Homo sapiens: one gene and its partner. The protein of the gene in region 2 purifies or fractionates together with the protein of the main gene of each other region. This does not show direct contact. Each region holds a gene or a part of one and is shown on either strand. Other genes may lie near its edges.

Evidence for each region.
Region 1: the proteins of ACOT11 (region 2) and THUMPD3 purify together in Homo sapiens (affinity purification with mass spectrometry; 3 studies listed by BioGRID and IntAct, with this or other methods). This does not show direct contact.

The regions. Positions count from the first base shown.
Region 1 is NC_000003.12:9,358,009-9,366,340, forward strand, and holds the start of THUMPD3 (tRNA (guanine(6)-N(2))-methyltransferase THUMP3), read left to right. Parts: upstream 1-5,045; 5' UTR 5,046-5,119; exon of another isoform or gene 5,120-6,185; intron 6,186-7,007; 5' UTR 7,008-7,060; coding exon 7,061-7,312; intron 7,313-8,332. UniProt on the Homo sapiens protein: Catalytic subunit of the THUMPD3-TRM112 methyltransferase complex, that specifically mediates the S-adenosyl-L-methionine-dependent N(2)-methylation of guanosine nucleotide at position 6 (m2G6) in tRNAs.
Region 2 is NC_000001.11:54,607,228-54,610,829, reverse strand, and holds the end of ACOT11 (acyl-coenzyme A thioesterase 11), read right to left. Parts: coding exon 3,565-3,602; intron 2,889-3,564; coding exon 2,762-2,888; intron 1,874-2,761; coding exon 1,718-1,873; 3' UTR 1,563-1,717; coding exon of another isoform or gene 889-1,562; 3' UTR 501-888; downstream 1-500. Other genes in the region: protein FAM151A, read left to right, coding at 275-418, 889-1,562. UniProt on the Homo sapiens protein: Has an acyl-CoA thioesterase activity with a preference for the long chain fatty acyl-CoA thioesters hexadecanoyl-CoA/palmitoyl-CoA and tetradecanoyl-CoA/myristoyl-CoA which are the main substrates in the mitochondrial beta-oxidation pathway.

The DNA of each region.
Region 1 (8,332 bases), on a different chromosome or scaffold from region 2:
GGATTAGAGATGCACGCCACCACACCCAGCTAGTTTTTGTATTTTTAGTAGAGACGGGCTTTCACCATGTTGGCCAGGCTGGTCTCAAACTCTGAAATATTTTAAACTGTAAAATTCAGTGTTTCTTAGTATATTCATAACAATGTGTGACCATCTTTACTACCTAATTCCAGAACATTCTCATCACTTCCATAAGAAACTCTACCCCCTTTAGCTATCACCTGCCAACCCCCTACTTCCCCCAGCCCTAAGCAACCATTAACCTGCTTTCTGTCTCTATATATTTACCTATTTTGAATATTTCATATGAATAAAATCATGTATGCCTGTATAACACATGGTCTTTTGTGTCTGGCATCTCAGCATAGTGTTTCAAAAGTCCATCCATATTGTAGAATATATCTGTACTTTGGAAAAACTCTCAAACCATGCTTCTCCTCTGCTCTCACACCAACACAAAAACAGTCAAGACTTCTGGGACCCCAAAATATGTGGGGATTTCTCCTCATCAGCCAGCAGGCAAGCAATCAGTTCTGCAGCGGACACCAGCTGTGTGTTCTCCAACTCAATTTCAACACTATCTACCTAGACATAATGTCAGATCCTACAGGTTAAGGGTTCAGTCTCCAAGACTATCCCCACCTCAGATATCAGTTGCAAGTTTGGGTCTCCAGAACTTCTGACCAACAGGCTTTAAGTTGGGGTTTCCATGACCCCCTCTTTGGGTTCAATTGATTTGCTGGAGCGGCTCACAGAACCCAGTGTAACACATATTTTCTGGTTTATTACAAAAGATATTACAAAGGATACAGATGAAGAGATGCATAGGGCAAGGGATAGGGGAAAGGACACCCATCAGAGGGCCCTTGGCCCTCTGAAGGTTTACTGAAAAATCTACTCACAAGAAGGCAGATTAATAAAAGAAGAGGTATACAAATTTATTAAACCATGTACACAGGGAGAATCACAGAGTGATTGCCCAATATCCCAATGGGGTTCAGAAGCTTAACACCATCTTGAGGTTACAGAAAGAACACGGACTTGGATCCTGGCAAAACAGATTATGGTGGGGGGATATAAATTCTATTTAGGGGCAATAAATGGTTACTAGGGAGAATGATTGGATGGGGAACAGAAATTAATTCATTAATAGTTCTCTTTGGAACTTAAATGATCCTCAGGGACAGTCATGATCTTATAAAAGGGTCCGTTCAGGTACATTCTTGGTCTTCTTTCCTGTAATGGATAATGAGACAAGGAGGGGAGCAACTGTTCTCCTTGGAGGGTCCATACTATCTTTATGTAGATAGGGAAAAAGTCTCTTCCAACTTGATACCTAAGAGTTTTTAACTCAAAATCCTCATTATACCAGGGAGCCATATTTTGGGATAAAATTCCCTGCACTCCCTCTGACCTTTCATGAAGACTTCATTGGTTGCTCATGATTGAAGCATGGACAACCATGCTCATGATTGAGGCATGGACAACCATATCAAAAAGTGATTGGACAAAAAAATACATGCTCTAAACCCAGCAAGGTCTGTCTATTCAGATGCCTCTTGGCCTCTCTGTGCAGCATTCCTTCCTCCAGGATATGGGGTAGGGCCCTCTCTGGAATAGATGCCTTACGACCACAATCAGATTAGAGTCTTGCCAAGTAGGCAGGTGAAAGGAGGGCAAGAGAAGGTCAGAGAAAGAGATTCTGTTTACTGCAAAATGGGCTAGGAAAGTTATGAGCTAGGAACTGTGGATGAAAACCAATGTATCATATCACAGTATTCCATTCCTTTTTATGACCAAATAATATTCTACTCTATAGATATAACACACTTGTTTGTCTATTCATTAGCTGATGAACATTTGGGTTGTTTCTACTTTTTGACTAAATCAATAAGGCCGCTAGGCACATTTGTGTACAAGTTGTTGTTTTTGTTGTTTAGAGATGGGAACGCTCTCTGTTGCCCAGGCTGGAGTACAGTGGTGCAATCATAGTTCACTACAGACTCGAACTCCTGGGCCCAAGCAATCCTCCCATGTCAGCCTCTTCAGTGTCTGGTACCACAGATGAGTGCCACCACACCCAGCTACTTTCTAAATTTTTTGTAGAGACAGGTCTCCCTATGTTGTCCAGGCTGGTCTCAAACTCTTGGGCTCAAGCAATCTTCCCGCCTCTGCCTCCCAAATTGCTAGAATTACAGGCATGAGCCAGCATGCCCAGTTTGTGTACAAGTTTTTGTTTGAACACTTGTTTTCAGTCTTCTTGGGTATAAAGCTATTACAGATGTTCCTTGACTTACAATGGGATTATATCCCAATAAACCCACCATACGCAGAAAATAGTGTAAGTTAAAAATGCATTATAACCCATCAGCCCATTGTAAAGTCAAAAAATTGTAAGTCAAACCATCCTAAGTCAGAAAGCATCTGTAGTGGAATTGGTGAGTAATGTGTTCTATGTTTAATTTTTTGACGAAAGGCTAAATTGTTTTCCAATGGACGTGTATTAGTCCATTTTCACACTGCTGATAGAGACATACCCAAGACTGGGCAATTTGCAAAAGAAAGAGGTTTAATGGATTTACAGTTCCATGTGGCTACGGAGGCCTCACAATCATGGTGGAAGGTGAAAGGCACTTCTTACATGGCGGCAGCAAGAAAGAGAATGGGAGAAGCGGAAGTGGAAACCTCTTATCAAACCATCAGATCTTGTGAGACTTATTCACTACCACAAGAACAGTATGCAGGGAATCACCCCCATGATTCAATCATCTCCCACTGGGTCCCTCCCACAATATATGGGAATTATGGGAGTATACTTCAAGATGAAATTTAGGTGGAGTCACAGAGCTAAAACATACCAGGGCATATATCATTTTGTATTTTCATCAGCAATGTATAAGTGCTCCATTGCCCCACATACTCATTAGAACTTGGAACTGTTGATTTTTTGTTTTTTACTTTTAGTCATTTTGATGAGTATCCCATTGTGATTAATTTGCAATTCCCTAATGACTAATGATGTTCAGCATCTTTTCATGTGCTTATTGGCCATTTGTCCATCTTTTGGAGAAATATCTATTCAAGCCCTTTACATATTTTTCATTTTATTTTTGAGACAAGGTCTCACTCTGTCACCTGGGCTGAAGTGCAGTGATGTGATCATAACTCATTACAGCCTCAACCTCCCCAGCTCAAGCTATTCTCCTGTCTCAGCCTCCCGAGTAGCTGGGACTACAGGTGAGTGTCACCATGCCTAGCTAATTTTTGTCATTTTTTTGTAGCGACAGAGTTTTGCCATGTTGCCAGAGCTAGTCTCAAACTCTGAGCTCAAGCGAGCCACTCACCTCAGCCTCCCAAAGCGCTGGGACTACAGGCATGAACCACCACTCCCAGCCCCTTTGCACATTTATAAATTGTGTTCTTTTTGGTTTTGTTTTGTTTTAAATTCGGTTTATCTTTTTGTTGTTGGGTTCCTTTCACAATAAGTTAACTTTTGTCAACTGAAAAATAAAAATAAAATTCTATGCCCCCCAACTGACTGAACAGGCCCTCTCTTGGCCAAGGAGACCCTAGAAAAAACTTGGAAGCTGAGTTCCTACTCATGACAGGATGGGAAGTCGGACACACCTCTTTATAACCCCTCCCTCTATAATCGCCATTAGATTTTCTTTCCTAAGGGTTAAACAGAAACCAGCCCTTTTGAAAGACTCACTCCACCAGCCTGATGCTGACCCTCCCATTTGCAGTTTCAATAGAACAACCGACTAGCATTCCTTCCTGATAAGAGATCACCCACCATCCAGGGAGTGGTTCTGGCCAGTCGACAGAGGACGTGCAGTGAGGGTTTTCACATCCCCTGCTTCACCTTTTGAAGTCAAGCGGTAGAAAACTCTACCCTTGGATCATGCTAAGGCCACCATTTTTTAAACATGGGATCCACAGAGAGGCATGAAGCTCAACTGCACATGCACAAATTGCTCCTTTCATAAATATTCGTGACCCCTCTTACAGTTTATTTAACATGTATATTTGGCCACTGTGTTTAGCATAAATCCCTGTCTTATTCTTCCAACCCTGGAAGTGCCTGTTTTTGGCTTCTGACTGGAAGCTAGGCTTCCCAGTCTGTCAAAATGGCTACCATGCAGGTTCAACTCTTTTTTTTTTTTTTTTTTTTTTTTTTTGAGATGATGTCTTGCTCCCAGACTGGAGTGCAGTGGCACAATCTTGGCTCTCTGCAACCTCTGCCTCCTGGGTAAGCAACTCTTCTGCTTCATCTTCCCAAGTAGCTAGGACTACAGGTGCAGGCCACCACATCCAGCTAACTTTTGTATTTTTAGTAGAGATGGAGTTTCACCATGTTGGCCAGCCTGGCCTCAAACTCCTGACCTCAAGTGATCCACCCGCCTCAGCCTCCCAAAGTGCTGGGATTACAGGCATGAGCCACTGTGCCCGGCCAGGTTCAACCCTTTATGAGAAATAAAGTTCATCTGATTGGGCACAGTGGCTCATGCCTGTAATCCCAGCACTTTAGGAGGGCTAGACAGAAGAATCACTTGAACCCAGATGTTCGAGACCAGCTTAGGCAACATAGTGAGCCCCACTATTTCTATTTTTTTTAAACTAAAGAAAAATATGAAGTAAACAGTGCTAAAATAGTGATGGCAATACAGAAATCAGGAACTAGTGGCATGACATTTTGAGAAAGATATTTAAATAAGCTGGAGAGACTCGGTGTCTCCAGCTTTAAAACAGAAATCAGTCTCTGCCACTTCATAGGTGCTAGAACAAAAGAGACTTGTTCCAAATGAGATGACGCATGTGAAGCGCTTACCCAGTGCTCGGCAAGGGGAAGCACTCTCTAAACGTTAGCAAATACCATGGTAGGACACAAGGCCCCTGACTCTCCGCTTTCAGCTTACTGAAGATCCTCAAAACCAACAGCACACAGCTTCCAGCGCATGCTCCTTTCCCCAAGACCTTGTGGGGGAACCCGCCGCCAGCGCGGAGCCACCGTGACTCGTAGCCTGACTTCCGTTTCCGGGGGCGGCTTCCGGCGGCGTGACCTGACCGCAAGAGGCCAATGGAGTGTGGGAGCTGAAAGGGTCTTCGCTGGCGGCCGGTAACTGGCGGCGGTTGGGAACGGCCGAGTGTGGCTCTTCTGGTGTTTCAGCTTGGGGAGAGAGGGGTGGCCTTCCTCTTGCAGTTGAGGCCGGCGCCGAGCCGGACTTCAGGCGGATCTCGTGGCGGAGCCCATCTTGCTCCCTCTCCCAGGCCTTTACCCGCTCCCTAGGATTCCCGGGCCCTGTAGGTGGGAGTTGGGAGACGTGAGTTCTCTTTCATTCTGCGCCTCTCATTGGCTCTCTGACCTTGTGCGGAACGCGTCCTTTAGCTGACCTCAGCTGCATTTTTTAGAAGATGGAGATTGTATTCACAGTGACTGTCAGCTTTTTAACGGCGGGAACTGACGTAGTGTTAAACACTGTCGTGTATCGCTGGCACAGCACAAGGACATTATAGGTATTCTGTACTCAATTAAGTTATTTTGAGTCACAGACCTTTTGAAAATCTCGTGTAAGCTATGGCCCCTCCACCTCTCTAATACTTCCCCCGGCCCCCACCCCAAGCACACACAAAAGCTTATGCATAGGAAATTTGTTTTACTATTTCGGATTACTTCCAAGATCTCTCTCCTGATGCCCATCTATGGATCCCAGAGTCTGGCAAGTAGTAGGCGTTTGAACATTTGTAATCATTAGATAGTAAGTATTCAGTTAACCATTTTTATTTTTAATTTTTTCTTTTTTTTTTTTTTTTTTTTTGAGACAGGGCCTCACTGTGTCACCCAGGCTGGAGTGCAGTCCTCCCACCTCAGCCTCCCAAGTAGCTGGACTCCAGGCGCCCACCACCACGCCCAGCTATTTTTTGTGTTTTTGGTAGAGATGAGATTTTGCCATCTTACGCAGATTGGTCTCGAACTCTTGGCCTCAAGCAATCTACTCACCTCAGCTCCCTAAAGTGCTGGGATTACAGGCATGAGCCAGTGTGCCCAGCCCAGTTAATCATTTTTAAATGCATGAAATGCTATTTCACAGGAGGGAAGAAGATAGATAGCCTATTAATAAGTTTTAATTATTGGCCTAACCAGGTACTACTCTCACTTGTCTCCTAACGACTCTAGGAAAGAGGTATTACTAATTACTTAATTACATTTGAAGGTTTGGGAGAATTAATTTGCCATAAGTCATTCAACCTATGATGGTGGAGGCAAGAATTCAAACCTGTATCTATCTGAAACTCCAAAAGCCCCATATTATTATTATTATTATTATTTATTTTATTTATTTATTTATTTTTTTGAGACAGAGTCTTGTTCTGTTACCCCAGCCGGAGTGCAGTGGCATGATCTCAGCTCACTGCAATCTCCACCTCCCGGATTCAAGCAATTCTCCTCCCTCAGCCTCCCAAGTAGCTGGGATTACAGGCTCCCACCACCACACCTGGCTAATGTTTGTATTTTTAGTAGAGACGGGGTTTCACCATGTGGGCCAGGCTGGTCTTGAACTCCTGACCTCAGGCAATCTGCCCGCCTCGGCCTCCCAAAGTGCTGGGATTACAGGTGTGAGCCACCACGCCCAGCCAAGCCCTATATTCTTAACTAACCATGTTCTTAACATCTAGATGCAGAAATGGATTTGAATGTGATCTGCAGTTTCTGTCGTAGTTATGAAATGGCTTTTGTCAACATGGGTTACCCCAAAGCAAACATTGCATGCTATGGAAATACTTCTTGTCTCTTTTTCTCCCATGGTATCTGTATTGCTTCTTTAATAATAACATCATGTTTTACAGCCTGCACTCTGTGCCCATGTTTATTCAACCCTTTTTACTTTGGTGACTGTTTATCAGATGTGTTGCCTTGTTCTTCCTGCCCTCCAGAGCCCATGTTTTTAATTATAACTGAAATATGAGATGATAATATTTGGGCTTTATTTCTTTTTCTTTTAAAGGACAGTACTGCTTTTAAAGAGACAGTGTTAGGGATCTTGGAAGCACAGCCAACATGTGTGACATTGAAGAAGCCACTAACCAACTCCTAGATGTGAACCTTCATGAGAACCAGAAGTCTGTACAAGTGACAGAAAGTGACCTCGGAAGTGAATCTGAGCTTCTAGTCACTATTGGAGCCACTGTACCTACTGGCTTTGAGCAAACAGCTGCAGATGAAGTCAGAGAGAAACTTGGGTCATCATGCAAAATCAGCAGAGACCGTGGCAAGATATATTTTGTCATTTCAGTGGAAAGTCTGGCACAGGTTTGAATGGAGCAATATTTAAAATAGTTTTCTAAGTTGATCATTTTATGGTTACTTTTCATTTTATAGACCCTTCTGGAATCCTTTCTGATTTTCATTGCTCTGCCCCAAATCAGGTGATTTTAAAGTTACTGCATTTTCTATTGAGTACTGATTTGTAATTTTGACTGTAGTTTCAGTATCCCTTAGGACCAAAAGTGTTTCAGATTTTTGGAGGGGGGTGGGGGGAGTTTTGGAATATTTGCATTATACTTGCCAGTTGAGCATTTCTTTTTTTTTTCTTTTTCTTTGAGACAGAGTCTTGCTCTGTCATCAGGCTGGAGTGCAATGGCGCGATCTTGGCTCACTGCAACCTCCGCCTCCCAGGTTCAAGCAATTCTCCTGCCTCAGCCTCCCCAGTAGCTGGGACTACAGGCGCCCGCCACCGCATCTGGCTAATTTTTGTATATTTAGTAGAAACGGGGTTTCACCATCCTGGCCAGGCTGGTCTCGAACTCCTAACCCCGTGATCCACCCGCCTCGACCTCCCAAAGTGCTGGGATTACAGGCCTGAGCCACTGCGCTCGGCCTGCCAGTTGAGCATTTCTAATCTGAAAATCCGAAATGCTGCACTGAGCATTTCCTTTCAGCATTGTGTTGGGGCTCAAAAAGTTTCAGATTTTTAGATGTGGGCTGCTCAACCTGTAGTAGGATTGCTACATTTTTAGAGGTGATCTAGTATTTCTTGAGGATTGAATTCACCAGAAAGAATACTGTTCAACTTAAGAAATTCTCTAAGTATCTCAGTATTTATTTACTTCAGCATATAGCAGATGTTTAACCTTTGGTGATGAAACATAAAAGAGATTTTCCTTTTAATTTGCATCAAAAATTCTTGCTCAGAAGTAATTAGGACTCACTCAAGGTAAAAAGTGAAGGTCAGAAAACTGCAATCTCACTATCATAAAGCTGATATATCTCATTACCACATAAGCAGTGAGAGGGCAAGGATTGTTGTCTATTTTTTTTTCCACCAATATA
Region 2 (3,602 bases):
GAGCCACCTAAGCGAGCGGGAAGGATACCAGCTCTGGAGCCAGGCAGACCTGGTCCCATCAGGTTCCACTCCTGGCAACTTTGCTTACTGCTTATAAGACCTTGGGCAAGTCACTTCTTCTAGTCTACAAGGCAAGGAAATGAGAGCTACTTGGCAGGGTGCTATGAGGCTTAGAGAGGATGCCCGTAGAGCTGTGGCCTATGGGACCCTAGCAACCAGGTAAGGTGTTCTGTGAATGGCAGCCACTTCACCTTGGCGATTTGGGGCCCCACAGTGAATGCCACACGGAAACCAATGTACTACACGGGAGGCAGCCTGATCCCTCTTCTCCAGCTGCCTGGGGATGACGGTCTGAATGTGGAGTGGCTGGTTCCTGACGTCCAGGGCAGCGGTAAAACAGCAACAATGACCCTCCCAGGTAAGGTCTACCCTTCAGCCCCGGTGCTCCCAGCTCATCTGCAGGGGTGTCCTTTGCTTGGGGCAGGTACCGCCGGTCTCTGTTGCCATGGCAACACAGGTTTATTTACACCATACCCTGGATGCAAGGTGGGGCAGGGTTGCGGGGAGGGAGAGGGAGTACAGTGATGTCAAGAGCACAGGGCTCCTGGCCTTCAGACCAGTCCTCAGCTACATTGCTGCAGGCAAGGCCGGCACCAGCCCCCAGGCTGAGTCATGGGTAAAGGCCAAGAGCTGAAACAAGAGTTTCTCATGCACCAGGCACATTTATAAAGCAACCCATCCACCTGGAGCCCAAAACTGGGTTGACAGATTCCAGAGAGGCAAGGTCCTTGATGACCCCATAACTCCCACTGCCCCTTTAACAAGGGACTCTTAACACCTTATGATAACCCAAATCCTAAACACTGTTGCCTCTGCCGCCTCTTCCAGACACAGAAGGCATGATCCTGCTGAACACTGGCCTCGAGGGAACTGTGGCTGAAAACCCCGTGCCCATTGTTCATACTCCAAGTGGCAACATCCTGACGCTGGAGTCCTGCCTGCAGCAGCTGGCCACACATCCCGGACACTGGGGCATCCATTTGCAAATAGCGGAGCCCGCAGCCCTCCGGCCATCCCTGGCCTTGCTGGCACGCCTCTCCAGCCTTGGCCTCTTGCATTGGCCTGTGTGGGTTGGGGCCAAAATCTCCCACGGGAGTTTTTCGGTCCCCGGCCATGTGGCTGGCAGAGAGCTGCTTACAGCTGTGGCTGAGGTCTTCCCCCACGTGACTGTGGCACCAGGCTGGCCTGAGGAGGTGCTGGGCAGTGGCTACAGGGAACAGCTGCTCACAGATATGCTAGAGTTGTGCCAGGGGCTCTGGCAACCTGTGTCCTTCCAGATGCAGGCCATGCTGCTGGGCCACAGCACAGCTGGAGCCATAGGCAGGCTGCTGGCATCCTCCCCCCGGGCCACCGTCACAGTGGAGCACAACCCAGCTGGGGGCGACTATGCCTCTGTGAGGACAGCATTGCTGGCAGCTAGGGCTGTGGACAGGACCCGAGTCTACTACAGGCTACCCCAGGGCTACCACAAGGACTTGCTGGCTCATGTTGGTAGAAACTGAGCACCCAGGGGTGGTGGGCCAGCGGACCTCAGGGCGGAGGCTTCCCACGGGGAGGCAGGAAGAAATAAAGGTCTTTGGCTTTCTCCAGGCACTGTATGTGAGTCCTTGGGGACAGGATGGAGTGGGAGTGGGCATGATGTGGCCACTGAGGGCATCTAGAGGGTCTGGAGGCTGGGGGCCAGATCATTCCGGTTGTCCAAGAGAAACTGCTCACAAGCCTTGAAGGTGGTGTAGAACTCAGAGGAGAGGCCGGCCACGTTGGTGGTCACATAGTTGAGAACACCTGGGGTGGCCTGGTTGTAGTAGGATACCTGCAGGGTGGGAAGCCAAGCTCAGGGGGACCAAGCTAGGGGAGGGTCCTGGGAAGGGGTGGGAGCCCAGTGGGCACGAGGCTGGTGGTGAGTCAGCCTTGCTGGCCTTCTGGGAGGGCAGAATATTCAACCCAACTCCCCAGGGTCTTAGATTACACAGTTGCCCAGCATGACCTCCTCCAGCTGATCTCCCCCAACCCTTCCTCGGGCACTGACAACCCTGGCTTCCCACACCACACACCACATTGTCATCATGCATCTTCCCCGCCAGCCAGAGGCCCTGGAGGGCAGGGGCTGCATCTCCAGGGCCCAGCTCTGAATCTCGGCCATAGAGACACATTAGACATTAGCCCAGGGATGGTTCTGAGGCGCTCATGGGTTCAAGCATATGAATTCAGCAAACACCGGCTGAGTCTCTGCTGGGTGAGTCTCAAGGCCAGACCCAGGCTGCAGGGCCCTAATAGAAGCTGTGAGGGGGGAGGCTGCAGTACCCCACCCTCGCTTTCCCTCAGCCTCCTCCCCATGTTTTCCATCAACACGGACTGCGCTGCTGGGTTTTATGGGCCCTCAGAGTCATATAAAGCCTTCCTAGATGAGAAGGGCTATCCAAGTGAATGACGAGTGAGATGGAATTTCAGTTCAGAACCCAGGCCTTCTGCCTTCAGCACCCAGAGCTTTTTCCAAGACCATGCAGTGGCCTCTGACTTACCTGTACACAGATTAGATCATTTTCAGCCCCTGACACTCTCAGGCTCCCCCAGGCTGGAAGGGGGAGCCTGCTGGGGGGCCAGCTCTGAGACTATCCTAGCCCAGCAGTGCTGAGCTCAATACACGTGTGGTGTTGGGGTGGAGCCAGGCTGGGGGCGTGGTTGGGGGGACCGGCCTCACCTTGGTCAGCTGGTCCCCCTCGCGCCAGAGGCAGAAGCCTGAGCAGAGGGTCTCTCCGCGTCTGTACTCTGGCGTCTCTCGGTGTGTGGGCAGCGTGACCGACCTCAGCGCGATGACATAGGGGTCCCTGAGTGAAGGAAGGGTAGCAAGGGGACAGGGGTCAGCCACAGAAGAAAGTGGGGGCCTGTTCTGCCCAACCAAGGCCGAGACCCTGCCCCCTCTAGCACAGATTCCTCACCAGGGGGATGCAAGGCACATCGACTCTTAAAGCCCCAATGCGGGGCTCAGGGCCAGGCTGGAGGGAGGAGGTACCTGTGGGTTAGCACTGAATTCACCAGGAGCCAACCTGACTTCACTGTGGACTTTCTGGAAAAGCCACTCCACTTCAACGCTCAGGGGAAGACTCGTGGGCTTTGGGATTTTTTTTCTGTCCCTGTCTCTCCAGCAAAAGAGATGTTTAGGCCCTCCAGCCCACACAGGGCTGTCAGAGGGAGGAGGCCAAGGAGGTGGCCACGTGAGAAATATCCTGCCCAAGGCCTGCATCGAGGCAGCCTGAGCCACCCTGGGTAAGGGTGGCCCTGCTCTAGGGAATGCGACAAGAGGGGAAATGTGTGCCCCTATCCCTCATTTTACCCATAGTAAAGCCACAGCAGCCCAGAAAAGTCTAGTGGTGCCTGGGGCCCCACAGCCAATGGGAAGCAGAGCTCTGGCTCCAGGCTGATGCCCTTCCCTGGGAGGGAGAAGCGGCCACCCTACCACCCTGTCCAGTTGTGTCCCCCACCCCACAGCAGATAGGCACACACCCATTGTCACAAGGCTTCCGCCTCGAGGCCAGGATCAC